3 linked regions of the Homo sapiens genome follow. The protein of the gene in region 1 interacts with the protein of each later gene in a pairwise test. Each region holds a gene or a part of one and is shown in the gene's direction. Other genes may lie near its edges. The genes, in order: MYO1B, POGZ and SUOX.

Region 1 (10,846 bases):
CATGATTTTCAATTTAATGAAACTGTGGACTTGAAGAAACATGCAGGTCTTTGAAGGAACCCCTCAGGGAGTAGATAAGAGTTTTGAAGAGACTAGGAACGAATGACTTTTTGAAGCAATTTATAGACCCAATGGCCCTGAGGGGAAAACGTTTGGGGCCTATGTGCTGTGTCAAGATTATCTCAGGTCCAGACTCAAGATCTATGGGAACTTTGTAGCACTCCCAGTCACTGAGAGGGGGGCTGGGGACAGATGAGGTTGGGGCCTGGCAAGAGGGCCCATAAGAATGTAAGACAAGCTTCTGCTCTCTTCTCTTACTCATATTGGCATGAATGGGTTTCAGGAAAAATACCCAGAGTATAGCATGTGTCTAATGGGAAGGATTATGCAGGCATCTTTATTTAGCAAAGGCCATGCTTGTCTTGGGGAGTTGGGTTGCTTGTCAACACCCTGACCTCCATGGTATGAGTCTTCCTCTGCATGAGATGGGCTGTGCTTTGGTGCTACTCTCTATAAACTTTTTCCAGCTTTATTCAAAGTTTAAGAACATCATTCCTGCAACTCCATCAGCAAGAACTGCTTTTGTCCTACCTTGCGCTCTGGAAAGTCTTTAATGAGATATCTGAAATTCTTGGCAGAGATTATAGGCTAACTTGATTTACCTAACATAATAATAACTCATGAAATTAGTTCCTCAATCTAACACTATTGAGTACTTTCTATGTTCTTAGGCTCTGAGAACACAATAGTGAACCAAACTCCACCCTCATGGAGTTTCTCATGTCGTACAGATGTCAAGATTGAGAATGCAGCTGAAATAATGGGCAACTAACCTTTTGCTTATATTTCTAATTTAAATTTTGGTTTATTCTGTCAATGGTCCCTAAACCTAGAGTTATGCCATTTTGGTTGTTAATACAATAGGATATTTTTGAGTTACACACAATTATCTTTCTCTACAGCATTTTCATATGCTAACACCTGTGATGAATGTATGCACCAGATCAAATATATGGATTTAGTTTTAGGGACTGAAGCAGAAACAGACTATTACGTCATATGTTTGCTAAATTACTTTTCATTTGGTATAGGTGGCCAATATTTTTTTTCCTTTGCCATAATATTTGCTTTTCCTTGCAGTACTCCTAGGGTCTCCCCAGCAATGAGGTGACAGCTCCCCAGTTATCATTAGAAAAATGAAAATGATTTTTTAAAAAGATTGGGAAAAAGTCTAGCCATTTTTCAGATTGATTTATTGTTTCACAGCTAGGTTTTGCCATCATAGTACTAACCTGCTGTAGCATGAGAAGAAATAAGAGACAACTATTTTACTAGTTGAAATGACAGAATGCTAAATTATAAAATGTCAAGGGAAAAAATTTAGGCAATTTAAATTTCCTGGCAATGGGTCTATAATTTATTTGTGGCTCAGAGTACTCTGAGCTGTAGAGAAATGCATTTTGTGGAGAAAAATTATACTTTTTCACTGCCTGATTTTAGTGCTCAAATTACATTTTTTTAAAATAAAGAATTGTTTTTGATTTTCAAATAGTCTAGTACAGTACCTAAAAGGGACCCTATTTGTGAGCTTTTCAAATTACTCTTTTTATCCTCAAATAGCTTTAGTAAATTTTCTCCCTGCCTGGGATAAGTTCCATCGGTCTTTTTACCTTCAAATATTCTTGATGTAATTTATCTATAGTTTGTTAAATACTTAGAATAAGAGTTGTGTTTTTACCATTGAGTTTTGGACACCGACAATGCTATAGAAACATTTTTTTTTGTAATACCTAATCTGAATTTCAAATAATACTTTAAACATGAAGCACTTATTTTTAAAGCACTCTTTAAATATATTTTAAAATATTTTATTTTGTATGAAGCTATTTAAGAAATAGCTAACTCAGTGCTTACTGCATTTGGAGGACTATCCTAAACTAAGAGACATATGCTAAAGAAATAATACAGTACACTTGACCCTTGAACAACTTGGAGATTAGGGACGCTGACCCTCCATGTAGTCAAAAATTCACGTATAACTTTTGACTCCCCAAAATTTAACTAGTAATAGCCTACTGTTGACATATCAGCCTTATGGATAACATAAATGGTCTATTAACACATATTTTATATTGTATCATATATTGTATTCTTACAAAAAAAGTAAGTTAGAGAAAAAGGAAATGTTATTAAGAAAATCATAAGAGAAAATATATTTGCTACTCATTAAGTGGAAATGGATCATCAAAGTCTTCATCCTCATCCTCTTCATGCTGAGTAGGCTGAAGAGGAGGAGGAAAAGGAGGAGTGGGTCTTGCTGTCTCAGGGGTAGCAGAGGTGGAAGAGGTGGAGGAGGTGGAAAGGAGGCAGGAGAGGCAGCCACACTCAGCGTAAGTTGCCTGCCTCAGCTTCACCATCTCTAAAATGGGATTATAATATAACCTACCTCGTTGGGCTGCTGTGCAGCTTCAACGAGTTAACACATATGTAGAGCATTTAGAATATTTCCTAGGATAGTCAGCTCTCTAAAACTGATGTTATCTCAGTCCTGGTGTTTTCGAACTGATTGACTAGTTTTATCTCGAGGCCTACTATCTAGTTGGAGAAGTCAAACATCCAGAAGAGGATGAATAAAAAGATTTCATGACCTGGGGCAAATTAATAGGTACTGAGAGGATGTGGCATTCAGATGCTACCATACGAAAGAAAGCAGAATCTAATTCAAGATGATGGTCAGGAATAGGTGAAAACCGAATTTAGTTTGAAAGGATAAGTAATGCCTGGGAATAGTGACCCACACCTGTGATCCTAGTGCTTTGGGAGGCCAAGACAGGAGTATCACTTGAGGCCAGGGGCTCAAGGCCAGCCTGGGGAACAATAGTGGGACTCCTATCTCTACAAAAAATACAAAGAAATTAGTCGGGTATGGTAACATGCACCTGTAGTCCCGGCTGCTTGGGAAGCTGAGGCAGGAGGATTGTGGGAGGATTGTTTGAGTTCAAGAGTTCAAGGTTACAGTGAGCTGTGATTGTGCCACTGCACTCCAGCCTGGGTGACAGAGCGAGATCCTGTCTTTATTTTATTTTTTAAAAAAAGATAAGTAAAGCAGGTGAAAACTGTTTGGGTGGGTAGATGAGAGACAAAATATAGCAAAAACAAAGACTGAGAATTTTAAAGATAGAGTCTTTAACACATTCAACATGATGTAAAATACCTAAGGACAAACAGTATGAGCCGCTTCATAAACTTAGTTGAATGAAGACAGAGCCAGTGAGAAAATCTAAAAGTATGACTTCCAGTCCACTTTTATGTTTGCTACACCAAAAGGCAGTCATATGGTTCTTTCGTCAGTCTTCTTGTCAATGTTGAACTCCTTTTAATTTTCTTGAAAGGGCTCAAGTAAAACCAACTAAGAAAAAATAAGTCTTACATGCCTAGTGGTAATTACCTTCCTGGGATACATAGAGATATGCTTTTACTTCTGTATTTTCCACAAGGATGGCAAGATTTCAATTGAATGAATTTAAATTGTTGCATGTTTCCATTGAGGCAAAGCACACTTCTTGTATTCTTTTATTGCACTCTTGTAATTTGATAATTTATGTTTTTCACCCTAAATCTCAATAATAGTTTTCTACTTCTTTTTATTTCTTTCTGTTTCCTCCAAATAGATTGAGGAGAAAGTAAAAAATGCCTTTGTAGTTGATGGATTTATTATCTATTCTTTTTTTTTTTTTTTTTTGAGATGGACTCTCGCTCTGTCACCCAGGCTGGAGTACACTGGCGTGATCTTGGCTCACTGCAACCTCCACCTCCTGGGTTCAAGTGATTCTTCTGCCTCAGCCTCCTGAGTAGCTGGGACTACAGGAGCGTGCCACCACGCCTGGCTAATTTTTGTATTTTTAGTAGAGATGGGATTTCACCATATTGGCCAGGCTGGTCTCGAACTCCTGACGTCATGATCCGCCTGCCACAGCCTCCCAAAGTGCTGGGATTACAGGTGTGAGCCACTGCGCCCAGCCTATTATCTATTCTTGACAATTGTGGGAATAACTTTAATCTGCTTTTTATAATTTCAAAAGTTGTTGATTGATTGGTTTTTGAAAAAAATGGCCAGGAAGGTAAAAGTGTTTTAAAACCTGTATGTCCTCAGAAACTTGGGTTTTGAGATTTATGAAAACTAGGTAAACAGTATTTTTAAAAGAGAAGCATGATTTTTCTCTAGAAATATTTTTGGCTAATAACTTGGTTCATTTTCTTAGTGTTTATTAGGATAAGTTCTACAGTTTCTATTATTTTCTTTTTTGAACTTGCTAAAATCATGGAGAAAGTCTTAATTGTCCTCACTATGCGAGGTCCTTCTAGAGGCCGAACTGTTCTGACATAACTGTGTCCTATCCCTTTCTTGAGTCAGGAGTTTCAAAACTTTACTTCTAGTAGCTAGCTATTTTGATAGACCTACTCAGCACATAGTTGTCTCAAACCTACTTTTTCTAAAATCTGGCCACCTTCCAAGATCAAAAGTTTATAGAATTCCCCCACTCTTCAATTTGTATACATCTTATATTCATGAACCTGCCATCTGCATTTCTGCTATTTTTGAAAAGCTGAACTGGACAGTAGAGGTCAGAAGTTCCATGAACTGCCAAACTGCTATAAGCAGTCACTTGGGAACCTAAACTCAGACAAGCAAAATGGAGAAGTGAGTCTAACACACGTCACCAGGTAGCAGGTTCATATGTTGCCTATTGTGAAGGCTGGGATCTCCAGGGTTTTCATTATGCTAGGTTATCAAGGTCTGAGGTAGTGTGCTTGATAGTGAAGACTATAGAGTCAGACTATCTGGGTTCAAATTCCAGCTCTGTCACTGTTCTAGGTGTCTATTGCTATGTAACAACCACCCAGATGACAATCTTTTATTATTATCACTTACGTTTCCGGGGCCTGATTTGGCTCAGCTAGGTTTTCTCTCTAGGTCTCTCAGGCAGCGTGGTCAGTGACTGTGGCTGGAGTTCTTTCAAAAGCTCGCCAACTCACATGCTTGATATAAGTTGTACTGGCAGTAGACCAGGTCCTCAGCTGGCACCATCAGCCCAAACACCTACACATGGCCTTCCCTGTGGCTTGAGCTTCCTCACAATATGGCAGCTGGGTTCCAAGGGTGAGTGTCCCAAGGGAGAGCCAGGTGAAAACTTCATCTCCTTTTATGACCTAGGTTTGGAAGTCACATAGCATCACATCTGCTGTATTCTATTTGTTACAATCAAATCACTAAGTCCAGACCATATTCAAAAGGAGGGCAATTAATATCCACTCTCTAATGGGAGTCTTCAAACCACCATAGCCATGTATTCCCTGAAGACCTCTCTGTCCTTGGCTTTGCTGGTCTGTAAAACAAGGATAATGAGAGAAACTTACCTCAGAGCTTTTTGTGAGGATTAAACAAAGAACAGTCCCTGGTACCCAGTATGTGTTAGTTTCGCCCATTATCACACCACTTGTACATCTGAAGTGATGCTGATGGTGACATCAATGATGAGACAGTTCCCAGCAGATATAGTCTGTGAAGGTCCCACCTTTCCAAACTCTACTAGTGGCATTTAACAAATCCCAGCGCCTGTGGTTCTTATGCCAGTGGGAACAGTTACTATATATGGTCTGAATTCTTTGGTTCACCTCACTTTAGTGACAGTTTCCAGATACAGGTCAGTCCATTTAAACCTGGCCCATTTATGGCAATTTATTTCATTATAGGATAAAGTAGTTAGAACCATGAGTAATAATTACTGTGTCTACAGTGCTTTTAACACCTCAGCCAAGTAATCCTCATCTCACCCAGTGAGTAAGTTTGAATGCGCACCCTTCCCTGTGCGAGGATGAAGAAACCAGGACCTGGGTCAAGAGGATTGTTCTAAATTCTCCAATGAGGCAATAGGGCTTGAGTGAGAAGGTGTGTGTGTGTGTGTAGGGGGGGTGTCCTGATTCTCTGGCCCCTACATGCCTGTATAATATACCCCATCACTGATCATTACTCAGGACCTGTTAATACACTCTATTCAAATACGTATGGGTATTTGAAATTTCTTTTAAACTACCTCTCATGTATTTATAACACAAAGAATTGGCCAGTGTCTATTTCCCACAATGTGAGATTAAGTAATTTAAAAGATACTAAAAGTCTTGTAAATGAAGACACACCACACCACTCAGTATAATTTTTTTCTTTTTCTGTGAAACTAATATTTTCTGATATTCTCGGCATCCAAAAATTTTCATCTTGGGGAGGAGGAAAAATTGAGACTTACTCCCACTGTTTGCCGGAATGTGACCCCAGGCTGGCTTCGAGTTGTCAAATGTTGTATTTCTCATTTTATGTCAGTGAGTCTGGAAGCAAAAAAGGTAGAAAGACTGCCTTCCGTGGGGGCCGCGACGATCGCCCCTCCTTCCCTCAAGCCTCGTCCCATCCAGGCTCGCCCCGGGTGCGGAGGGTCGGGCCGCAAACCCGCAAGGCGCGGAGGCCGCCGCGACGCTCACCGGGGGGCGCTGTGAAGCCGGCACCGGGCGGACAGAGGTGAGTCGGCTCGGAGGCGGTGGCTCCCGTTCCTGCCCGCGCGCCGAGGGGCGAATCCCAGGCAGCGAGGTCGCCGCCCCCGCCCCTCGGCCGGCCCCTCCGCCAGCGGGCGAGAGGGGAGTGGCCGGGCTCCTCCCGCCGCCGCTGAGCACTCCGCAGCTGGGTGCGCACGGGAGCCTCAACCGCGGCGCGTGGAGGCAGTACCAGAGCGCGCGGCGCGCAGTCGGCCGGCAGCCGCGGGACAGCCTTGGCAGAACAGCCGCGGCGGGAGCCCCGCAGCCCCGGGCTGGGCCCGCGTCCCGGAGCGCCACCGGAGAGCGAGGACGACGTGGAGGCGGAGTGGCGCCCGGCGAGGTAGCGCCAGGCGAGGTAGCGCGAGCGCTTTCTCTCTCTCTCCCCTGCCCTTCCCTCTGCGTCCGTCGTCGGCCCCCGAGGCGCCTGCTCCGCGCCTTTGTGCCCGCGGTCCCTGGCCCCGTCGCACCCTGCGGGCGGGGGTCAGCGGGCTCTGCCGCTCTCTTGGGAGACGCGGCGCTGCGGCGGGAACGGCGCACGCTGTAGGTTGCGGAGGGTGGTCGTGACTCCGCAGTGGCTTCGGGGGTGGCGGGAGGGAAGAAGGGCTTGTAAACTAAGTTGCTCTTACTTTGCCCCATGCCTCTCGTACCTGTGGGCAGAGTCGAATCTCGGCTGTCCTCGTGTTCACCCACAGCCCCTCCATTCCTCTGGCCCACAGCTGTTTCCTGGCCCCCTGGAAAGACACGGTGTGGCTTCCTCCGGGCAGGAAAGCGGAGGGAGAACAATGGGGCGTCCTGGGGAGTGGGGTTCAGGTGCGGTGTGCCCCGGCGGCGGCGGGGGAGGAGGGGCCCGGGACGCTGTGGGCCTCCCTGCGCGTGCAGCTGCGCTCGCCTCCTTTGTTCCGCCGCAGCGGAGGGGGTTGCCCTGGGTCTCGTTTCCTGCCCGGGATGGGATTGATTCACGGTCCCAGAGAGGGAAGGGGAAGGGGGCGGGGCTGGAATGGAAACCAGATTAGAGACGGGAGCTACGAAGGGTGGTGGGGCCGGGAAGAGAGTTGGGGAGAGGGTTGGGAGAGGGTGATGAGAGCGCGCTGGAGAGGTAACTACAAACACACAACATTTTGTTCAAGGGCCATGTGAGTTTCTAGAGCTTATTTGTAGTGCTTTGTTCAGGCTTCGGCCCAGCGTTTATTGCTGCAACAAGTTGTGTGCTTCTTGAGTTTCTAGGCGTTCCCAATGTTAGATTGCTCAAAGCAAATCTTCTTAGTTACAGTGAAAGAAGCCCCCCCCCCTTTTTTTTTGAGATTTGAAAAAATTTTGCTATGAACTATGGTATTGGTGTGTATGTGTGTGCCTCTGGGTCTGTGTGTGTAGCTAGTGGATATTGGCTGGAATGGGTAGGAGACAAATTTTATAGAATCAATTTTGACGTAAAATTGTTTTATAGTATAATATAGTACAACAGTTTTCCAGGACTGTTTGAGGGCAGAAACCACCAGAAAATTAGACATTGCTATAAATAAATGAATCAGACTATGTAACACAATTGAAAAACCCTTTTACAGTCTGTCCCAGGAAACACACCACACACACCAGCGTTTGGGGTTTGAACTGAGGAGCCCTGGCATTGAAGTGTTCTGTGCTTTCACTCTCTGTGTGAGGATCGTTTAGAGGTGGTAGAATTAAATGTAATGTGTCAGACATTTGTTAAGTGACCTTTCCTAGATTGGAATCGAGACTCGCCAAAGGATTGGCTGACCTAGGGAGGGAGCTATGGGGGATTGAATGATGTGTGTTTTTTGAATGGGGTATTCCAAGCAAAACTGTTTTGGGAGGAGGCTGACATTTCCAGGCATTCATGGTTTGTGCCTGTGGGACACTGGTGGGAGGATTCCCAAAGTCGGACTGAAGGTTAGCATTACTGTGGTGATAATTTAGGAGACATTCTGTTGTAGTAGTCTGGCTGCAGACAGGGCTGGGAAGTGGCCCAGAGCTGCCTCTTTGACAAGCTGAGGGTCCGCCATTAAACCACCCCTTTGGCCATTTATTTTGAGATGAACCAAGTTTGAAAGCCTCTTAACCTTAGAAGGCTAATTAGGAGCTTGCTGTGGGGGAAAAAAATATCTCCTGCCCACTAAGTGGTAATGGAAAAGAGCTGTATAAGCTACTGCTGAGGGTTTGTCTTTTTCGTGGGGGATGTGGTCAAATTTTCAGGCCAGGCTGAAAAGCACTGGGAGTTGTCCTCAGGAGCCATTATGATGTGAAGTTGAAATGGGATGGTGTCCAACTGTCAAGCTGTTTGTCATTAGAACTAACACACTGCCTGGCAAAACGTTGTGCTAGGGCAGCTAACAGAGGGAGACTTTTTGTTGTTGTTGTCTTACCATTTTGGACTTTTCACTTATGCTGTGAATTGTTTTATAAAATACAACACGATTGAATTCCTCTCAAGTACTCATTGTTCTATACATTAACAAAATGTAAAGCATCTGAACATTGCTGCTACTGGAGATGTGGACAGATAGCAGAATCCTAAGTGGCTGGTCTCTGGTCTCTGGCCTCTGGCCGTTCTGGTGGATGCCTGATTGTGTGATAAGGCTGGCAACAGGCTGTATCCCCTTCCCAGGATGAATCATCACTTTGTCAAGCCTGGAGTTAAAGACTAACTTACCCTGATTGCTGCACAGTTATGCAAAGCAAGGAGGAACGTCTGACATCATGGGGAAGAAGAGGGAGTGAGGTGAGTGGGTGGTGTTTGGCTAAGAAGGGATCTTCAGCATGTAGCATCCATGTTTTTAGCATTTGTCCTCCTTTGGGTAAGATTGTCTTCTACCTCCCTTCTACTGTTTTCAATAGCTGAACATTTGGATTTTAATTAAATAGCCTAACAATAATTATAGCTATCATTTAGTATGTGTTCATTACATGCCAAGAATTTTACATACATTACTATATTCATCATCACAACAACTTGATAAAGTGGGTGTTATCTTCATTTTCCAGTGGAAACTGAGGCCTGGAGGAGTTAAGTAACTTGCCCCTTACACCGTACAGATGCTCCTAGATTTACAATGGGGTTATGTCCTGATAAACCCATCATAAGTTGAAAATATTGTAAGTTGAAAATGCATTTAATACACTTAATCTACCGAACCTTAAATGTGTCCAGAACAGTCACATTAGCCTACAGTTGGGCAAAATCGTCTGGTAACACAGTCCACTGTAGAGTATTGGTTGTTCATCCTTGTGATGGTGTAGCTGACTGGGAGCTGCGGCTCGCTGCCACTGCCCAGCATTGTGATGGGGTATCGTACTACATGTGGCTAGCCCCAGAAAACATCACAATTCAAAATTCTAAGTATGATTTCCACTGAATGCCTATCATTTTTGCACCATTATAGAGTAAAAAAATCCTAAGTTGAACCATTGTAAATTGAGGACCCTCTGTGCTTGTGTAGCTAACTACTAAGTGGTGGAAGTGCGATTGGGGATCCCAAAGTCCATACTCTTTAGGTATATACTGTATGGTATGATGTATTTTAATAATAACAACAGTTTGATTATCTAGTTGGTTAGCCCCTGGCAGATGTCAAATTACTTTCACGTCTATTATTGTAGTTGATTCTTCCAAAAACCACTGTGAGATAGGTTTGGAAGCCCAGGTTAGGACATTACAACTCTTAGAACTGTATTGCTAAAGAGCTGTATGTTATGGCCTGTATGAATAAGCTGTAAGTGAATGAAACTTTACTTTTAAAAAGTTAGGTTGCCAACATTTAAAAATAAGTTCTTTTTTCGAAACATTTAAAAGTGGTAGAACAGAGTAGATCTTATATTGCACTCAAGGCTTTTATGTTTATTGAAATCCATTTTAAGCCCTTTTTATCTTACAGCCTTTAATAGAACATTGCACTTTGCTTCTTAACTGAGACCCGATGCCAGAGTGTCTTTTTAAGAAGAGAAATAAGGAGGGAAGGAATGTGCTTATAAAGAGGAAGTGGGACATCAGAATTGGAAACACTCGCAGCAGCAGGCCATAGATTTTTCCCAGCACATGCTTTTTGTCCTGGCAGTAGCCTTTTACAGAAGGCATTCTTCCTTAGGGAAGTGTCAAGGGTCTTTCTTTACAGTATCCTCTGAGATCATCAAATTTCTGAGCTCTGTGGGAACACTCATTCCACATGATTTTTGTGCTCATCCCTTCCCCACAGGGGAAGTGAACTAGTTTAGGCATCTGCATGAAAAGGGAATAGCAGTGGTATCT
Region 2 (10,689 bases), on another chromosome or scaffold:
TGATGCCAACTGTGGAAAGCCCAGCATAGTATGGCTGGGTAATATCTTCTTTAAACCCCTTAGAAGTTTATTAAGTGATTTGATTAAAGTCTAGGCAGAAATAGTGGGAAAACTTGAATTAGGAAGCCTTAACGCTTGGCTCTTGAGGCTTTTCACCCTTTGCGTGGACTGCTCCTCTTCACATGGGATGAATTAGTTAACTTTTGGAGATGTATGTATGTAATTGGTGGAGTTCATGGAGACCTTTGGGAGACAAGGAAGATGACTTATTTGATATATAATGTGTTGAATTGAAGTTGAAAGCCTAATTCTGAATATGGATTCTAAAGGCAAATGCTTCTCTTTGCCTGTGGCTTCCTGAGTTGTAAATTCTTATGAATTTGCCAAAGGTTTATGGCCTTTGAAGTAGACTTTGGGAACAATTTTTTAGGATTGTTTGTATGTTGAATCACTCCAGTGAACATTGCTCTTCCCCCTGCCCCCCACCCCCACTTCTGTTCATTTAGCACTTTAGGGAGCCAGTCTGTTGATGAGGTTTTTTTAAGCCGATGCTCTCTTAAGTCAGGAAATAGGTTTTCATTTTTGCTCATGTGTACCAAAGCTTGTTCTCTAATTTTGATATTTTGTCTCTCAAAAGTTTGCCAGAATTTCCTAAATTTTTCCCTCTCAGTCATTTGAAACCTCTAATTCTAGAGAAAGAACCATTAAGTAAGAGTATGGGAATTTTTTTTTGGATGTAGGTCATACTGCAATCTTTGTCAGTGTTAATTGGTCTCCATGTTAAAGATCATTTTGCTTTTTAATACAGGGATTTCCTGTAAGGAATGTCCGGCCTGTACAAAATGCAATGAATCAGGTTGGGATTGTGCTGAACGTACAGCAAGGCCAAACGGTTAGACCAATTACACTAGTTCCAGGTAAGGAAAAATGTCTATCCATTTGGAATAAACTGGCATCCAGAAGATTTGTTTTTATTGTTCTAAATATCCTAAGTCATTTAGTAAGTACATTTAAAGAAAATCTAAAAATATAAAAATATTAATGATTTAAGCCCAATTTTAAAAAATCTGCTTCTAACCTTTGGCCAGGGTGGTGGTTTTATTTATTTCTGTTTAGCTTTTCACCACCCTTCATCAAGTAGTAAAACAGAGTTTACAGTCATTTTTCTGTAACTGGTATTTAGTCAGCTATTAAGACTATGTTATTAATGCAAACTCATAAATTCTACACTCCTTACACATCTCCTCATTTGCACGGTGGGATTATAAACTTTGTTTTAATTTTATAGCATAGATTTTAGATATAAACAAATGACATTCCTTTTATGGATAAATACTGTCAATGACTAGATAGTTTTTTTTTTTAAGATTCTGCTAGATAGTTTTTTTTTTTTTTAAGATTCTGAGAAGGATAATTTTTTTAAAATCTTAGAATTTTCCATTGCTCTATTTAGCATGTATAAGTTTACTACAATTCAGACCAAAAAAGAGTATCTTAATTTAGCTATTTGTAAGGGTACCTCTGTAGCTTGTCTTCCTAAGGTTTTGTTTTTTGTTCTCGTAGCCCATAGGGGTTTAAGTCTGACCAGCTTACCCTGGCATTTCTTTATTTTTCTCAGTGGAATTGTCTACAGTTGAGCCAGGAGACATTCCTCTTTGGGACATCCTAGTAGAATGGCATAGTCTGTCTTCTGAGTTGATAGAAGAGGATGGAAGACTCCTTTAGTACTCTGAGAAAGACTGATTTCTTTTTTCAGGACCAGGTTTGCCATTTGGCCTATATACACCCATATTGCTTCCCACTCTTTTCTTCCAGTACCGAGGTCAAGCCACTGATTGTATTCTTAGAATTAAAAAGGCAGTGTGATAAGGTGTTTTAGGAGGAGTTGATGGGAGTCTTATTTAACTTAATGTTTTTAGGCTGCCCAGGTTATTTTGTCAACATGGACACCTTGTGCTTTCTTAGTCTTTAGAATCTATACTCCTCTTGGAAACCTCTGATGATCATCCATCAGTTTGGGGAAATAATCTTTCCAGTAAAGGCAGGGAGAATGTGTTATAGGTGAGCTCACTGACCAAGATCTGGTACTTTGTCTCTCTTTTAAAGCCCCAGGTACCCAGTTTGTTAAGCCGACAGTTGGAGTTCCACAAGTGTTCTCCCAGATGACCCCTGTGAGGCCAGGCTCCACAATGCCTGTGAGGCCCACCACCAACACCTTCACCACCGTCATCCCGGCCACTCTTACCATTCGAAGCACCGTCCCACAGTCCCAGTCCCAGCAGACCAAGTCCACTCCCAGCACTTCTACCACTCCCACTGCCACACAGCCAACCTCACTGGGGCAACTAGCTGTTCAGTCTCCAGGCCAGTCAAACCAGACCACGAATCCCAAGCTAGGTAAGGCTTCGGAAGAGGAGATGGCAGAGCCAGGTTGGGATGGTGGGTGGAGAACAGATGATTATCACTTGGTCACCGTAGCTCCCTCCTTCCCCTCTCCACCTGCAGTGAGCATTGCCAGCTTTGTCACTGTGAAGCGACCTGGTGTTACAGGCGAAAATAGCAATGAAGTGGCCAAATTGGTGAATACCCTTAACACCATCCCTTCCCTGGGCCAGAGTCCTGGGCCAGTGGTGGTGTCCAACAACAGCTCTGCTCATGGCTCTCAAAGAACCAGCGGACCTGAGTCTTCAATGAAAGGTACAATAACCTGAAAGACTCTGAGCAGCCAGTCATTCAAAAACATTAATAAAGTGTTTGTTGTATCAGAGCTTTATACTCAGAAATAGAAAAATAAAATAAAATACAGCTGCTGTAGTTTGTTCTTACAGAAACTTTAGTAAGGAGAAAGCCACTTACAAAAAGTGTAACTGAATCAGCTCCAAGAAATTATGTGTGTAATTGTGCTTTGGAGATTAGTGAAATTGATTGATTAAAGATGGGTGAGATAATGAAAGATAACTTCATGGAAGAGATGGATTTCTGAGCAAGGTTTTAAAGTTAGGATTTGGTAGAGAGATCTTCAGGTTGAGAATGATGAGCATGAGGGTTTTCAGTGGTCTAGAGCAGGGGTCGGCAAATGTTTTCTGTAAAGGGCCTAGTAGTAAAGTTGTAGGCTTTGTGCACAATATATAGCCTCTGTTGCAGCTATTAACTGTGCTGTTGTGGTGGGGAAGCAGCCACAGATACATAAACGAATGAGCATGGCTGTGCTCCACTAAAAACTATTTATGGACTCTGAAATTTAAGTTTCATAAAATTTTCATGTGTCGAAAAGTTTTATTCTTTTATTTCAACCATTTAAAAATAAAAACCGCAAGGTATAGTGGCTCACACCTCATCCCAGCATTATGGGAGGCCAAGACGGGAGGATCACTTGAGCCTAGGAGTTTGAGACCAGCCTGGGCAACATGGTGAGATCCCATCTCTACAAAAAAAAAAAAAAAAAAGATTAGCCAGGCGTGGTGGTGTATGTCTGCAGTCCTCGCTACTCAGAAGTCTGAGGTGAGAGGATGGCTTGGGCTTGAACCCAGAAGGTTGAGCCTGCAGTGAGCCATGAGCATGCCACTGCAACAGAACGACACCCTGTCTCAAAAAAAGTAAAAACCTTTAAAACATGGTGTTGGGAAAACTAGATATCCATGTCCAAAAGAAGTTGGATCTTACCTTACAATAAATACAAAAATTAACTCAAAATGGATCAAAGACCTAAATGAACTAAAACTATAAGACTCTTAGAAAAATTATAGGACAAAAAGCTTCATGATACTGGATTTGACAGTGATTACTATTTCTTGGATATGACACCAAAAGCATACGCAAGAAAAGAAAAAATGAGTAAATTAAATTATATCAAAATTTAAAACTTTTGTGCAGGACGTTGTCAACACAGTGAAAAGGGAAGCCACAGAATGGGAGAAAATATTTGCAAATTATGTATCTAATAAGGGGTTAATATCCAGAATATATAAAGAATTTGTGCAGTTCAACAACAAAAAAACTCCCAAACAACCTTTTTAAAAAATAGACAAAGGACTCGCTGGTCGTGGTGGTTCATGCCTGTAATCCCAGCACTTTGAGAGGCCAAGGCAGGTGGATCACGAGGTCAGGAGTCCAAGACCAGCCTGACCAATAATGGTGAAACCCCGTCTATACTAAAAATACAAAAATTAGCCAGGCGTGGTGGTGTGTGCCTGTATTCCCAGCTGCTCGGGAGGCTGAGACACAAGAATTGCTTGAACCTGGAAGGCAGAGGTTGTGGTGAGTCGAGATTGTGCCACTGCACTCCAGTCTGGGCAACAGAGAAAGACCCCATCTCAAAAAAAAAAAAAAAAGTAGGAAAGTAGGCAAAGGACTGAATAGACCTTTCTCCAAAGAAAGTTATTGCCAATAAGCTCATGAAAAGGTGCTCAGTGTTATTAATCATTATGGAAATGCAAATCAAAACCACAATGAGGTACCGTCTCACTCCCATTAGGATGGCTACTATCAAAGAACCATAAAATAACAAATATTGTTGAGGATGTGGAGAAAGCAGAACCCTTACGCACTGTTGGTGGAAATGTAAAATTATGCAGCCACTTTGGAAACAGTATGGTGGTTCCTCAAAAAGTTAAAAATGATAGAATTGTTGTATGCTCCAGGAATTCCATTCTATACCCAAAAGAATTGAAAGCAGGGACTAGAACAGGTATTTGTACACCTATGTTCATTGCAACATTATTCACAATAGCTGAAAGGTGAAAGCAACACAGAGGTCCATCAACTGATAAAGGGATAAATAAAATGTGGTATTCACATACAATGGTATATTGTTCAGGCTTAAGAAAGGAAATTCTGCTACAACATGTGCTGCAACATGGTTGAACCTTGAGGACATTATGTTAAAGTGAAATAGGCTAGTCACAAAAGGACAAGTACCATATGATTCCACTTACTTGAGGTACCTAGAGTAGTCAAATTCATAGAGACAAAGTTGAATTGTGGTTGCCGGGGTGGAGGCGAGGGGAGAATGGTGAGGAGGTTTTTATTGGATATAGCTTCAGTTCTGCAAGATTAAAAAAAACAAAAACCTTAACAAAAAAATCACATACAAATTATTCTTAGCTTATGGGCCAAACAGAAACTGGTAGCTGGGCTGGATTTGATCTGTGTGCTGTGGTTTGCTGACCCCTGGCCTAGAGTTAGAACAGTAAAAGGAAGCCTCAAACATAGTGATCTTGAGCCCAGGGAGGTCAAGGCTGCAGTGAGCTGTGGTCGTGCCACTGCACTCCAGCCTGGGCAACAGACTGAGAGACCGTGTCTCAAAAAAAACAAAAACAAACAAAAACCATAGTGATCTCTCATGCTTGCTTACCCTTTTATATACTTCTCAGGGAGTGTTTGACTTTTTCCCAAAAGGTCAGTAATCTTTTTCCAGTGTCATTGTATTAATCTTATCAATTCTTCTCACTTCTTTCAGTGACCTCTTCCATCCCAGTATTTGACCTCCAGGATGGTGGACGGAAAATATGTCCACGATGTAATGCTCAATTTCGTGTTACTGAAGCTTTGAGAGGTCACATGTGTGTAAGTGATATCACCTGTGATCCAGCTTAAGTGGCTTCTGCCATTTACCTTCATTAATATTGGAAGCTTGTAAGCAGGGGCTCTAAAATGACTGAAGCTTTTTAAAGGGTTACTGTTTCTCTTGGTCTGTTTTTAGAAGAGCTGTGTACTTTGGAATGTGATGGGATACATTTAAAGACCCTCAAATAGATCAGAACATATGTGATCTTACTTTCTTAGTGTGGTAGATTTTGAAACCACACAGGAGAACAGGTTTATAGATAATAAGGACTCAAACCATATTGGCCTCAGTTCATTTTTGTTAATTGTGTCATTGGATGAATCGGGAGCTCTTACTTCCATTTTTTAGCTTTTCATTTTTTGGTATTAGTCCAGATAAAAAGGTTGGAACTTCTTCTTTGCCAGGGAGCTCAGAGCCAAGTTATACTAATGATTAAGGGACCTAAGACAGGCAGGAGGGAGAAATACAAAGTATAGCGCTTGGGTGGCATATGTGGATATACTCTAGAAAAGGAGTAAAACTTGGAAACGCTAAAAAAAACTGAAGGGTGAAAGCTGAATGAGAATACCTGAAACCAAACCGTTAACAAGGAATGGTAGTGAAGTTAAGGAGTTAGCACATTCTAGCCCCCAGGATAACCAGAATGATCAGATGTCTTTCTTTATAGTACTGTTGCCCAGAAATGGTTGAATACCAGAAGAAAGGAAAGTCCCTGGATTCAGAACCCAGTGTCCCATCAGCAGCAAAGCCCCCATCCCCTGAGAAAACAGCTCCTGTTGCTTCCACACCCTCTTCTACACCTATTCCTGCTCTGTCACCGCCTACCAAAGTACCAGAACCAAATGAGAACGTGGGCGATGCCGTCCAGACCAAACTCATTATGCTTGTAGATGACTTCTACTATGGACGGGATGGTGGCAAAGTAGCCCAGCTCACAAATTTCCCTAAGGTCGCCACATCTTTCCGATGCCCACATTGTACCAAAAGGCTAAAAAACAATATTCGGTAAGTGTTTAAGAGCCTTGGAAGTTACCTTGAACAAGAGAAGACTTACATTTTCTTATATATTTTAAGTCTTTCTCTTTGGAGAATGGACCTAACTACTATGCAGTCTTGCTGGGGTTATCATTAAATCAATAACTAGGACTATAGAAGGAGATATTGTGGTAATAAACAAAAGGTAACTGGATCGAGTAAGGGAAAGCAGTATGTCTCCTTTCCCAGAACTCTCTTAGTTTCAAGAACTCATTATCTTTCTGGGCTCAGAAAAGGATATCCCAAACAGGAAGTCTGGGGAATGGAGGGGAGCAGATAATGTTTGTTCTGTGATTTTACCATTATATTTCTAAAAGGCTACCAATTTTTTATGTTTTCTGTACTTTCTCTTTGTGCTTTATTACAGATTCATGAACCATATGAAACACCACGTAGAACTCGATCAGCAGAACGGTGAGGTAGATGGTCACACTATCTGCCAGCACTGTTACCGCCAGTTTTCCACTCCCTTCCAGCTTCAGTGCCACTTGGAAAATGTTCATAGTCCCTATGAATCTACTAGTAAGTTTGGAAACTCTTAAACTCAAGGGGAATATACCTTGCTGTTCACTCATTGAATGGCGCTGGGGGGAGCCCATTATATTTATTTACATGTGGGTAACAGTGTAGAGGAAGTACTTTTCATATTTGTAGCCAGTTCTTTACTTCATTCACCTTGTTTTTTTTTACAAGCCTGACTTTTATTTTGTTCAAGCATGGATTGAGTTCAGTGTTAGATCCTGAATTGTTAGGGGCGTTGATTCAGAACCACTGTAGAAAAACAAATGTAATTAATTTATTTCTTAGGTCTCTTTATAGAAGGAACAGTCATCTATTTGCTCTTCCACTTTAGTTAAACCCTGATAGGTTTTATGTAGGCTAAAAGATAATATTGTGAAGTACTTTATCATTAAGACATTGCTTTCAATGAAATATAAGATGAGCTGGAGTGTTTTCTACACTGTATATTTTATACATGTAGGCTGGACATAAGCTCAAAGAAATTAAGTAGGATAAAAGATAATATGGCCGGGCACGGTGGCTCACGCCTGTAATCCCAACACTTTGGGAGGCCGAAGCAGGCAGATCACCTGAAGTCAGGAATTCGAGACCAGCCCGGCCAACATGGCGAAGCCCCATCTCTACTAAAAATGCAAAAATTAGCTGGGTGTGGTGGCGGGCACCTGTAATCCCAGCTACTCGGGAGGCTGAGACAGGAGAATCGCTTGAACCCGGGAGGCGGAGGTTGCAGTGAGCTGAGATCATGCCATTGCACTCCAGTCTGGGCAACAAGAGCAAAACTCCATCTCCAAAAAAAAAAAGATAATATTATGAAGTACTTTATCATTAAGACAGTGCTTTCAGTGAAATATAAGGTAAGCTGGAATGTTTTTCTACACTGTACATTTTATAGATAGATGTAGGCTGAACATAAGCTCAAAGAAATTGAGTCATTTGCTTATGAGCGTACACCTCTAAATACACCTCTACTGGGGATACATAGTGAGGATTTAAGCCCAGTATTGAGAATACTTCTCATGTCCTTTACGGGATTTCCAGTTTTGTTGTAAAGACAAAAATTATGTAAATATAGGAAAATGTGAGAACAAGATAGTATATTATAAACATAGACATTTTAAGATATCATTGATAGGTGAAATACTTCAGAGAAGGGAAAAAATCCTTGTGGCTAGGTTTCCAAGAAAGTCGTGCTTAAATTTAAGAAAGGTTTAGATGGATGGAGAGTAGTAAGAAAAGCTTTTAGGTGATTGAAAACAGCATGATCAAAAGCATAGAAGACATATGCATATTATCTGGATGCATTTGCTACAAGTAAAAATCCTTAACTAAAAATGAATTAAACAATAAGGACTGGGTGTGGTGGCTCACACCTGTAATCCCAGCACTTTGGGAGGCTTAGGTGGGTGGATCAGTTGAGGCCAGGGGAGACCAGTCTGGCCAACATGGCAAAACCACATCTCTACTAAAAATACAAAAATTCGCTGGCTGTGGTGGTGTGCGCAGGTAATCCCAACTACTCAGGAAGCCAAGGCATGAGAATCACTTGATCCCAGGAGGTAGAGGTTGCAGTGAGCTGAGATCGCACCACTGCACTCCAGCCTGGATGACAGAGCGAGTCTCTGTCTCAAAACAAAAGAAAACAATAAGAATATCTGTTATATCATTTAACTGAGAGATACAGAAATGGATGCTTCAGCCTAGAATTTGACTGCCCTGCTGGTTTTCAACAATTCTCTTGTCTCTGGCTCATAGCAGGGTGGCTGTATAAGTGTCAGGCACTATGTCCAGATAAAAAATTGTTAGACAAAGAAGAGATCTTATCTTCCCATCTTTCTTTCTTGAATCTGTTTTCTTATGAGTGAGAATTGCTTTCCTTTTATATCTCTTTGACCATTTATTGGCAAGGGAAGTGGGATTGACATTAATGGCTTACAGTAACACTAGGCAGTAGAAATACGCAAGCTTCATGAGTAATTTTAATTTTTTTCACTTTAAATACAGTAGCGCTCCCTTATCCTCAATTTTTCTTTCTTGAATCTGTTTTCTTATGAGTGAGAATTGCTTTCCTTTTATATCTCTGACCATTTATTGGCAAGGGAAGTGGGATTGACATTAATGGCTTACAGTAACACTAGGCAGTAGAAATATGCAAGCTTCATGAGTAATTTTAATTTTTTTCACTTTAAATACAGTAGCGCTCCCTTATCCTCAATTTTAGTCTCAATCACAGTCCAAAACTAGGTGAGTGCAGTACAATAAGATTATTGAGAGAGACACCACATTCACATAACTTTTATTACAGTATATTGTTATAATTATCCTTTTATATATTATATATTTTTAATTGTTAATCTCTTTGCCTAATTTATAAATTAAACTTTATCATAGGTATATATATATATATATATGAAAAAACACGGTATGTATAGGGTTCAATACTATCTGAGGTTTCATGTATGCACTGGGGGTCTTGGAACGTATATTTCCCATTGGCAAAGGGCGTCTACTGTAAAGTTTAAAAAAACAGGCAAAATTAATTTTAACAGCATATTTTATTCAGTATATTAAAAATATTTCAACATGAACTCAAAATTTAAAATTAATGAGATATTCGTCATTCTTTTTTCCTCCATTAAAAAACAGATCTTTTGAAATACAAATCTAAATTGGGTTTGAGCTTACCACATTTTAAGTGTTCACTAGATACATGTTGCTGGTGCCACCATATTAGACAGTGAAACTTTGGACTAATCATTTGGGAGTAGAATGTATATTAGAATCAACCGGGCCAGGTGCAGTGGTTCACACCTGTAATCTCAGCACTTTGAGAGGCCGAGGCAGGCAGATTGAGCTTAGGAGTTCAAGACCAGCCTGGGCAGCATGGAGAAACCCCGTCTCTACAAAAAAAATACAAAAATTGGGTGTGGTGGCGCACGCCTATAGTCGTAGCTACTCAGGAGGTAGAGGTGGGAGGATTGCTTGAGCCCAGTAGGTCAAGGCTAGAGTGAACCATGATCACGCCACTGCACTCCAGCTTGGATAACAGAGCAAGACTCTGTCTCAAAAAACAAAGAATCAATGGTAACACTGCAGTGTAGTGCCAGGGTAGCCAGCTTGGTCTAGAATAGGACTCACGATTCTTCACTGTCAGTAATGTGAAGCCAGAGTAACTCATCCATACCTCTTAGTGAAAACACCAGTTTTTTGAGACAACAGGGTCTTGCTCTGCCACCCAGGCTGGGGTGCAGTGACGCAATCTTAGCTCACTGCAGCCTCGAACCCCTGGGCTCAAGCAGTCCTCCCACCTCAGCCTCCTGAGTAGCTGGGACTGTAGGCATATGCCACCACACCCAGCTAATTTATTCCTTTTCTTGGGGGTAGAGACAGGGTCTTGCTGTGTTGCCCAGTCTGGGCACCTAACTCATTTTTACGCGTAATATGGGGGGTGGGTTTTGTTATTCCGAAGTTCCACAAATAATAAAATTACACAGAGGGAAGATAAGTTTTTCCTTATGGAAAAGAAACAATGTAGACCCTCATTGATCTTTTTTCTCTTGGTTTCCCTG
Region 3 (9,439 bases), on another chromosome or scaffold:
CGAGCCCTGCCCCGCGGGGAGGCAGCTAAGGCCCGGCGAGAAATCGAGCGCAGCGCTGGTGGGCCGGCACTGCTGGGGGACCCAGTACACCCTCCGCAGCTGCTGGCCCAGGTGGTAAGCCCCTCATTGCCCGGGGCCGGCAGGGCCAGCCGGCTGCTCCGTGTGCGGGGCCTGCCAAGCCCACGCCCACCCGGAACTCCAGCTGGCCCGCAAGCTCCGCGCTCAGCCCCGGTTCCCGCTCGCACCTCTCCCTCCACACCTCCCTGCAAGCTGAGGGAGCCGACTCTGGCCTTGGCCAGCCCAGAAAGGGGCTCCCACAGTGCAGCGGCGAGCTGAAGGGCTCCTCAAGTGCCGCCAAAGTGGGAGCCCAGGCAGAGGAGGCACCGAGAGTGAGCAAGGGCTGTGAGGACTGCCAGCACAATGTCACTTCTCACTAGGATTATAAGGGTGAGCCACCACACCCAGCTCTTTTATTACAGTATAATGTTATAATTTTTTTCTTTTTCTTTGTTTTTTTTTTGAGACGTTTGAGACGGAGTCTCACTCTGTCGCCCAGGCTGGAGTGCAGTGGCGCGATCTCGGCTCACTGCAACCTCCGCCTCCTGGGTTCACGCCATTCTCCTGTCTCCGGAGTAGCAGGGACTACAGGCGCCCGCCGCCAAGCCCGGCTAATTTTTTTTTTTCTATTTTTAGTAGAGATGAGGTTTCGCCGCGTTAGCCAGGATGGTTTCGATCTCCTGACATCGTGATCTGCCCGTCTCAGCCTCCCAAAGTGCTGGGATTACAGGCGTAAGCCACTGCGCCGGGCTAATTTTTCTATTTTGTTATTGTTGTTAATCTCTCTTTTTTTTTTTTTTTTTTTTTTTTGAGATGGAGTCTCTCTCTGTTGCCCAGACTGGAGAGCAGTGGCGTGATCTCAGCTCACTGCAACCTCCACCTCCCAGGTTCAGGTGATTCTCCTGCCTCAGCCTCCCGAGTAGCTGGGGTTACAGGCACGTGTCACCATGCCTGGCTTATTTTTGAATTTTTGTAGAGACAGGTTTTCCCCATTTTGGCCAGGCTGGTCTCAAACTCCTGACCTCAGGTGATTTGCCCGCCTCAGCCTCCCAAAGTGCTGGGATTACAGACGTGAGCCACTGCGCCGGGCATTGTTGTTAATCTCTTACTGTGGGTAATTTAGTAATTAAACTATAAGAGGTATGTATGTATGGGGGAAAAAACAGTAATATAGGGTTTGGTGCAATCTGTGGTTTCAAACATCTACTGGGGGTCGTAGAACATATCCCCAGTGGATAAGGGGGTACTACTGTACTTGTTGGCTCTTCATGTTAGCTCTGCTAGGCAGATGTCATTTCAGAGATGAGGAAGCAAGTTCAGAACGGCTTGGAATCTTGCTCAGGAAATCGGGCTGGTTAATGAATAACAAGAGATCCAGTTTCACAAACCCAAGGCATTTTGCCCCCAGAATCTGGGCTTCTTCACCCATTTAGGCTGTCACTACTTTTTTTTCACTTTTTTATCCCTGTTTAAGTCAGTCTGACCCACAGTTGTCCTCTGCTGACTTCAGAAATAATAATCTGGCCAGTAGACATTTGGTTTCGGTCCTTTAGGCCCTTCGCCCCAGGCATCGTTCTCTATGGTGGACAAAGTTCAGAATGGAAGATGGGAGAAAGGTGATTCTGATTCTAGAAGCACCCATCCCTCCTACCCCATTCCCCACCCGCATTACCTGCCATCCTGTCAGCACAGTCTGTCTCTGAAGTGCTCCAAGTTTTCTCTAAGGGCCCATTTGGACTCCCACTCTCAAGACTCCTCACTTGCCCAGAAAGCTCCTTGCTGACCTTCTCTGTGTCTTCCTCTCACCCATTCCCTTAGGCCTCCCTAATATCCCCTCCCAGGGTCTCCCTATCTTGATCCCAGAATCTTCCTTCTACAGGTCTGCTACAATGCTGCTGCTGCACAGAGCTGTGGTCCTCAGGCTCCAACAGGCCTGCAGGTAGGCCAGCCCATCCCAGGACTTGCCTCCTAGCCCCTATCTGCCACCCTTAGTGTCTTTTACAATGTCATACCTTGCAAATAAGACAGTTGAGAGAGTGTGTCCAGGGAGGACAGAGAAAGCCAGATCCCACTTTTCCCACCTATCCCTGGAGAAACTAAGTTCCAACTTAAGGAACCAATGGCCAACCAGGGAGAAAGAAGTAGACCCCAAGCCTTCACTAGCCCTTTCACATGACCATACGTGCTACTAAGACCGACCTCTCTTCCAGACTCAAGTCAATCCCCTCAAGGATCTGCATTCAGGCCTGCTCCACAAATGATTCATTTCAGCCCCAGCGCCCCAGCCTCACCTTCTCTGGTGATAACTCCAGCACCCAGGGATGGAGAGTCATGGGGACCCTATTAGGTCTCGGTGCAGTGTTGGCCTATCAGGACCATCGGTGTAGGGTAAGTAGGGAAAGTGCTTCATTGTCAGAACAGACTGGGTGCAGTGGCTCACGCCTGTTATCCCAGCACTATAGGAGGCCAAGGTGGGTGGGTCACTTGAGGTTAGGAGTTTGAGACCAGCCTGGGCAACATGGCAAAACCCCATCTCTAGTAAAAATTAGCCAGGTGTGGTGGTACATACCTGTAATCTCAGCTACTTGAGAGGCTGAGACACAAGAATCACTTAAACCCAGGAGGCTAAGTCTGCAGTGAGCCAAGATCAAGATCAGGCCACTGCTCTCCAGCCTGGGTGACAGAGTGAGACTCCATCTCAAAAAAAAAAAAAAAATTGTCAGAATAAAGGAATCAGTCCTAGTAAACTCCACAGGCAACCCAGGCTGTGACCCATGTTCTTGTAGTTACCACAGAGTTCACAGTGACGCAGTCTTCATGCACAGTGGAGATGAAATCTGCTAATCTGCTACCTTCGCTTCCCAGTGGCCAACACCGTGGGTTGGGTCAGGGTGAGCTCAAGTGATTTCTTCTTATTCTTCTTCATTTTTTCTTTTTTTTTTTTTTGAGATGGAGTTTCACTCTTGTTGCCCAGGCTGGAGTGCAATGGCATGATCTCAGCTCACCACAACCTCCACCTCCCGGGTTCAAGTGATTCTCCTGCCTCAGCCTCCCAAGTAGCTGGGATTACAGGCATGCACCACCATGCCCAGCTAATTTTGTATTTTTAGTAGAGACAGGGCTTCTCCATGTTGGTCAAGCTGGTCTTGAACTCCCGACCTTATGTGATCCGCCCACCTCGGCCTCCCAAAGTGCTGGGATTACAGTTGTGAGTCACCACGCCCGACCAAGTGATTTCTTCTTAATAGTCTCTTCCCTTTTATCTTACTCCTTCCCTGCCAATAGGCTGCTCAGGAGTCAACACACATATACACTAAGGAGGAAGTGAGTTCCCACACCAGCCCTGAGACTGGGATCTGGGTGACTCTGGGCTCTGAGGTCTTTGATGTCACAGAATTTGTGGACCTACATCCAGGGGGGCCTTCAAAGCTGATGCTAGCAGCTGGGGGTCCCCTAGAGCCCTTCTGGGCCCTCTATGCTGTTCACAACCAGTCCCATGTGCGTGAGTTACTGGCTCAGTACAAGATTGGGGAGCTGAATCCTGAAGACAAGGTAGCCCCCACCGTGGAGACCTCTGACCCTTATGCTGATGATCCTGTACGTCACCCAGCCCTGAAGGTCAACAGCCAGCGGCCCTTTAATGCAGAGCCTCCCCCTGAGCTGCTGACAGAAAACTACATCACACCCAACCCTATCTTCTTCACCCGGAACCATCTGCCTGTACCTAACCTGGATCCAGACACCTATCGCTTACACGTAGTAGGAGCACCTGGGGGTCAGTCACTGTCTCTTTCCCTGGATGACTTGCACAACTTTCCCAGGTACGAGATCACAGTCACTCTGCAGTGTGCCGGCAACCGACGCTCTGAGATGACTCAGGTCAAAGAAGTAAAAGGTCTGGAGTGGAGAACAGGAGCCATCAGCACTGCACGCTGGGCTGGGGCACGGCTCTGTGATGTGTTAGCCCAGGCTGGCCACCAACTCTGTGAAACTGAGGCCCACGTCTGCTTTGAGGGACTGGACTCAGACCCTACTGGGACTGCCTATGGAGCATCCATCCCTCTGGCTCGGGCCATGGACCCTGAAGCTGAGGTCCTGCTGGCATATGAGATGAATGGGCAGCCTCTGCCACGTGACCACGGCTTCCCTGTGCGTGTGGTGGTTCCTGGAGTGGTGGGTGCCCGCCATGTCAAATGGCTGGGCAGAGTGAGTGTGCAGCCAGAGGAAAGTTACAGCCACTGGCAACGGCGGGATTACAAAGGCTTCTCTCCATCTGTGGACTGGGAGACTGTAGATTTTGACTCTGCTCCATCCATTCAGGAACTTCCTGTCCAGTCGGCCATCACAGAGCCCCGGGATGGAGAGACTGTAGAATCAGGGGAGGTGACCATCAAGGGCTATGCATGGAGTGGTGGTGGCAGGGCTGTGATCCGGGTGGATGTGTCTCTGGATGGGGGCCTAACCTGGCAGGTGGCTAAGCTGGATGGAGAGGAACAGCGCCCCAGGAAGGCCTGGGCATGGCGTCTGTGGCAGTTGAAAGCCCCTGTGCCAGCTGGACAAAAGGAACTGAACATTGTTTGTAAGGCTGTGGATGATGGTTACAATGTGCAGCCAGACACCGTGGCCCCAATCTGGAACCTGCGAGGTGTTCTCAGCAATGCCTGGCATCGTGTCCATGTCTATGTCTCCCCATGAGCATGGAAAGGAGCCACCTCCACCCCTTTCCCCACCCATTAGCCTCACTGCTTCAGAAAAATCTTTCCCACCTTTCAACTTCTTGGATCACAACTCTGGCCTTCCTAAGCCATACCCAAGTACACATATAGCACATTTCACCCAAGGACCTTCCCTCTTTGGACACTATGTTACATACCCCTCTTGGCCTTTGAACCTGTGCCAGGAAGTGTGAGCTGTTACAGCAAGGGGCTAGAAGTGAAAAAAGTAATTCTGGAGACAAGCACTATTTTCTCTTCCTACCCCACCTCCATTTCTAATGCCTACTGCCATCAAGGCCTTGTTTTGCTTTTCTTTTTGGATTGTTCAGAGAAATGTGTGTGGCATGTGTAAGAAAAGTGTATATACTATCTTATACTACCTCTCCAGGTTGCCAGAGAGTTGCGAGGAGAGCAAGGGGCACAACCGTCTCCCTTTATAGTTCTACTTTTCTAATAAATAGTCTGTTTAAGATCATAACTCTTGGGCCTGGGGAGTGAGCCTATTGCAGGAGGAAGGATGCATTTGTACTGGGATGTATAATGAGATTAGACCAAAACAAACAAAACTGGGGAGGAAGACAGAGAGGAAGTAGGCTTGTAGGTTAAGAAGTAGGGCTTCCGGCTGAGCACAGTGGCTCACGCCTGTAATCCCAGCACTTGGGAGGCCAAGGCAGGTGGATCACTTGAGGTCAGGAGTTCGAGACCAGCCTGGCCAACATGGCAAAACCCAGTCTCTACCAAAAATACAAAAATTAGCTGGGTGTGGTGGTGGGTGCCTGTAATCCCAGCTACTTGGGAGGCTGAGGCAGGAGAATCGCTTGAACCAAGGAGGCAGAGGTTGCAGTGAGCCGAGATCACACCCACTACACCCCAGCCTGTGCGACAAAGCGAGATTCTGTCTCAAAAAAAGGGGGGCTTCCTTCTCTGAGGTTTGGCAGTATCTGCAGGGACACCTAGGTGATTGACCTCAGGATACCATGAAGAGAGGAGAGGTGACAAAAACATGTACCCTCCAACTCCTTTCCCCAACAGTTCCAATGCACTTGGCAGGAAAGGCAAAGGGTGCTAGGAGTTTAAAATCAATATTGTCTTAGGAGGTCGTGAAAGCAAAATAAATCTTGAGGCCCCAGAATCACTAAGCTAAAGGGAAAAGTCAAGCTGGGAACTGATTAGGGTAAACCTGCCTCCCATTCAAAGTCATCCCTCTGCTCACTGAGATAAATGCATACCTGATTGCCTTCTTTGAGTGGAATACAACCATTTGCCTCTTTTTTTTTTTTTTTTTTTGTAGAGACAGAGTCTTGCTCTGTCACCCAGACTGGAGTGCAGGAGTGCGGTGGCACGATCTCCGCTCACTGCAACCTCCGTCTCCGGAGTTCAAGCAATTCTGTCTCAGCCTCCCAGGTAGCTGGGACGACAGGCGCACACCGCCACGCCCGGCTAATTTCTTTTGTATTTTAGTAGAGATGGGTTTCACCATGTTGCCCAGGCTGGTCTCGAACTCCTGAGCTCAGGCAGTACGTCTGCCTCGGCCTCCCAAAGTGCTAGGATTACAGGCGTGAGCCACCAAGCCCGGCTTTTTTTTTTTTTTTTTTTTTTTTTTGAGATGAAGTCTCACTCTATTGCTCAGGCTGGAGTGCAGTGGTGCGATCTCGGCTCACTGCAACCTCCGCCTCCCGGGTTCAAGCGATTCTCCTGCCTCAGCCTCCCAAGTAGCTGGGACTACAGGCGCGGGCCACCACACCCGGCTAATTTTTTATTTTTAGTAGAGATGGGGTTTCACCATGTTGGCCAGGCTGGTCTTGAACTCCTGACCTCAGGTGATCCGCCCGCCTCGGCCTCCCAAAGTGCTGGGATTACAGGCGTGAGCCACTGCGCCCCGCTCCATTTACCTCTTATCTACCTATGACCTGGAAGCCTCCTCCCAGCTTGAGTTGTCCCGCCTTTACATATATTGATTGATGTCTCTTGTCTCCCTAAAATGTATAACACCAAGCTGTGCTCCAGTCACCTAGGGCACATGTCGTCAGGACCTCCTGAGGCTGCGTTACGGGCGTGCGTCCCTAACTTTGGCAAAATTAAGTTTTGCCAAAAACTTCCTAAACTGAGACCTGTCTCAGATTTTTGGGATTCACAAGGTACAGAGGGAAAACTTGGCTCTAGGGCCTGACGTGCCAGGCCACATCGGGCGTCCAGCGTGTGCTTAGATTGCAAACTGGGTGCAGATTAAAGGCTAGTTTTTGGGTTACCTTCGGCAGACGATGGTGCCTTTCGGATTTGAATCTTTCGGCGCTCGGCTACTCTCCCCTAGCTCCTCTCCCATTTTCCCCCAGCAGTCTCCCGGGCTTGGGGACGCTCGGTGTTCGGCCACGCCGCCTGTCGCCTGGTAGTGGGACCGGAAGTTGTTAGGGGGAGGGGGACGGCTGTGATGGGGGGGGATATTTGGGGGGGCAAGTCCCTTCTCAGGTGAAGCTGCTGATGGAGATGGAGCCGCCGCCACCGCCGCCTCTGAGCGCCCGGGTCCTGGCTCCGGCCCGGCGACTGCCGCCGCCTCAGTGACCCCACTCCCCCCGCACTGGGCCGCCCGGGCCAGAGTGGGGGACCCCCGCCCCCTCGCCTCCCTCTCCCCCAACACTGTCCCCTCTCCCCAACCCCTCACAGCCTGCGCGCGCGCGGAGACACCTCAGGTGAGTGAGGGGCGGGGCTTGGTGGGGGTAAAGCGGGGGCGGGGCCTCGGTAGCCGGGGGCGGGGCCTGAGGGGCTCTGGCGTGAAGGAGGGGGGAGACGTGGGCGGGGGAAGGGGCCAGGCTGAGAGAGGGTCGCGGGTTGGGCTGGGGCCGGAGGGTTGGAAGATGGCCGGGGGAGTTTGGCCCGAGGCCCCAGTATTAAGAGCGAGGTAGCAGGGACTCGGGGGTCCTAAAAAGGCGGGAGACAGATCAAGGCAAGGGGCCGAGGACAGGCAGGAGCTGCCAGGCGCGGGGCTCCTCCGTGGGGATGTGGCTTGGGTATACAGCAGAAGGACAGCGAGGAGAAAGGAGCAGCAAAGAGGGTATCTGAACAAAAAAAGCGAGGGACCCGGGTGTTGGGTCGAGGAATGCTGAAGACAGGAATCTGGGGATAAAGACGTAGGCCTAGGTGAGATCTGGGAGGCAATGAGCATATTGGGAGAAACATGTAGAGAAGAAACTTAGGATGGAGTGAGAAGTGCACAGTGTAGGGTGAGAGGTGTAGGGAACTTGGGAAGCAAGGCTGGGAAAGAAGAGATTCACTGCTTGAGAGCCCTAAGAAAGAAATGCAACAGAGGAATCCCCAGGGCAGACATCCAGACGGGAGCTGCAAACTTGGGAAGCAGGCTGCCTGCTCCTGTGTACCAAAACAGCCCTCCCTGTACCTCCTCACACAAACCCCATCCCGTTATTTTCTTACCTCATGGCTGCTAGAGTTGTAGGTTCTCACTTTTTAAATTTTCTATATTATTTCTGTGCCTTTAAAAAAAATTATGACTAGTCCTTTCTGGGAACAGTGGAGTGTTTAATGGAACGTGGACCTTTCGATATGCTTATGAAATATTGTACCCCAATCCCCATCCAAGGTCAAGAAGTTACGAACTCTGCTTCCAGGAAATTTTTTTTTTTTTTTTTTTTGAGACGGAGTTTCACTCTTGTTGCCCAGGCTGGGGTGCAATGGCGCGACCTCAGCTCACTGCAACCTCCATCTCCCAGGTTCAAGAGATTCTCCTGCCTCAGCCTCCCAAGTAGCTGGGATTACAGGCACCCGCCACCACCCCTGGCTAATTTTTTGTATTTTTAGTAGAGATGGGGGTCTCACCATGTTGGCCAGGCTGGTCTTGAACTCCTGACCTCAGGTGATCCACCCGCCTCAGCCTCCCAAAGTGCTGGGATTACAGGCATGAGCCACCGTGCCTGGCCAGAAAATTTTTTGCATACCTTATTTCGCCCCATTCCCTTCTCTCATGAACAAAACTGTCTATTGTTGTTACTCTTGTCAACCCTCGCTTATATGTCTAATAGTTCCTACTGTGCCTGTCTCCCCAGCCTGTGCCCTCGAAGCATCAATGGTGGGCATGGTATGTTCCTGACATGCTCACATGTCAGCTTTAGATGTTCCAACGTCATGGTCAACCAGATGACCATTGAAGCCTGTCTCCCCTTACTGATACTTGCTCACTTTGCCTGGGTGAAGATACATGTTCATATCCTTAAGGAAGCATGAAAATGTTATCTGACTACCTAGAATATTTCCACTTAACGATAACTCAGATTCTGAGGACAAGGCCAGATAAAAGGCCAAATCAGACAATCTTTGAAAGCATAGTGTTTCGTTTGGTTGGGGTGTATGGTAATCCCTCACCTCCCCATGGACCTGCCAGTAGGTCCGTGAATCTTGCTTTATGGTTTGCAGGAGGACTTCAGCTTTCCCTACTAACAGCCTAAAGCCAGAGAATCCAGACAGACCCTTGGGTCATGAGAACAGTCAGATGAGTAGCTCCTGAGATAAAAATAAAATCTTAAAAGAAGAAAATAGCTTTACCATTGGGAAGCAAGAGAAGTTTCACTGGAGCTTCTGGGGTGGGCTTCAGAATGGTGAGAGCTGCCCTCATTTTGGCAGCTTCAGAATTATACCTTGCCCTAGTCAATAGAAGTTGA

Evidence for each region.
Region 2: the proteins of MYO1B (region 1) and POGZ interact in binary tests that used the Homo sapiens proteins (3 or more experiments, as listed by UniProt).
Region 3: the proteins of MYO1B (region 1) and SUOX interact in binary tests that used the Homo sapiens proteins (3 or more experiments, as listed by UniProt).

Annotation. Positions count from the first base shown.
Region 1 is NC_000002.12:191,238,687-191,249,532, forward strand, and holds the start of MYO1B (unconventional myosin-Ib), read left to right. Parts: upstream 1-6,717; 5' UTR 6,718-6,940; intron 6,941-7,232; exon of another isoform or gene 7,233-7,489; intron 7,490-7,597; exon of another isoform or gene 7,598-7,681; intron 7,682-9,208; exon of another isoform or gene 9,209-9,271; coding exon of another isoform or gene 9,272-9,322; intron 9,323-10,846. UniProt on the Homo sapiens protein: Motor protein that may participate in process critical to neuronal development and function such as cell migration, neurite outgrowth and vesicular transport.
Region 2 is NC_000001.11:151,419,831-151,430,519, reverse strand, and holds part of POGZ (pogo transposable element with ZNF domain), read left to right. Parts: intron 1-808; coding exon 809-917; intron 918-2,106; coding exon 2,107-2,397; intron 2,398-2,478; coding exon 2,479-2,697; intron 2,698-5,458; coding exon 5,459-5,565; intron 5,566-6,233; coding exon 6,234-6,571; intron 6,572-6,968; coding exon 6,969-7,123; intron 7,124-10,689. UniProt on the Homo sapiens protein: Plays a role in mitotic cell cycle progression and is involved in kinetochore assembly and mitotic sister chromatid cohesion.
Region 3 is NC_000012.12:56,000,276-56,009,714, forward strand, and holds the end of SUOX (sulfite oxidase, mitochondrial), read left to right. Parts: intron 1-1,936; 5' UTR 1,937-1,946; coding exon 1,947-1,996; intron 1,997-2,267; coding exon 2,268-2,445; intron 2,446-3,342; coding exon 3,343-4,752; 3' UTR 4,753-5,250; downstream 5,251-9,439. UniProt on the Homo sapiens protein: Catalyzes the oxidation of sulfite to sulfate, the terminal reaction in the oxidative degradation of sulfur-containing amino acids.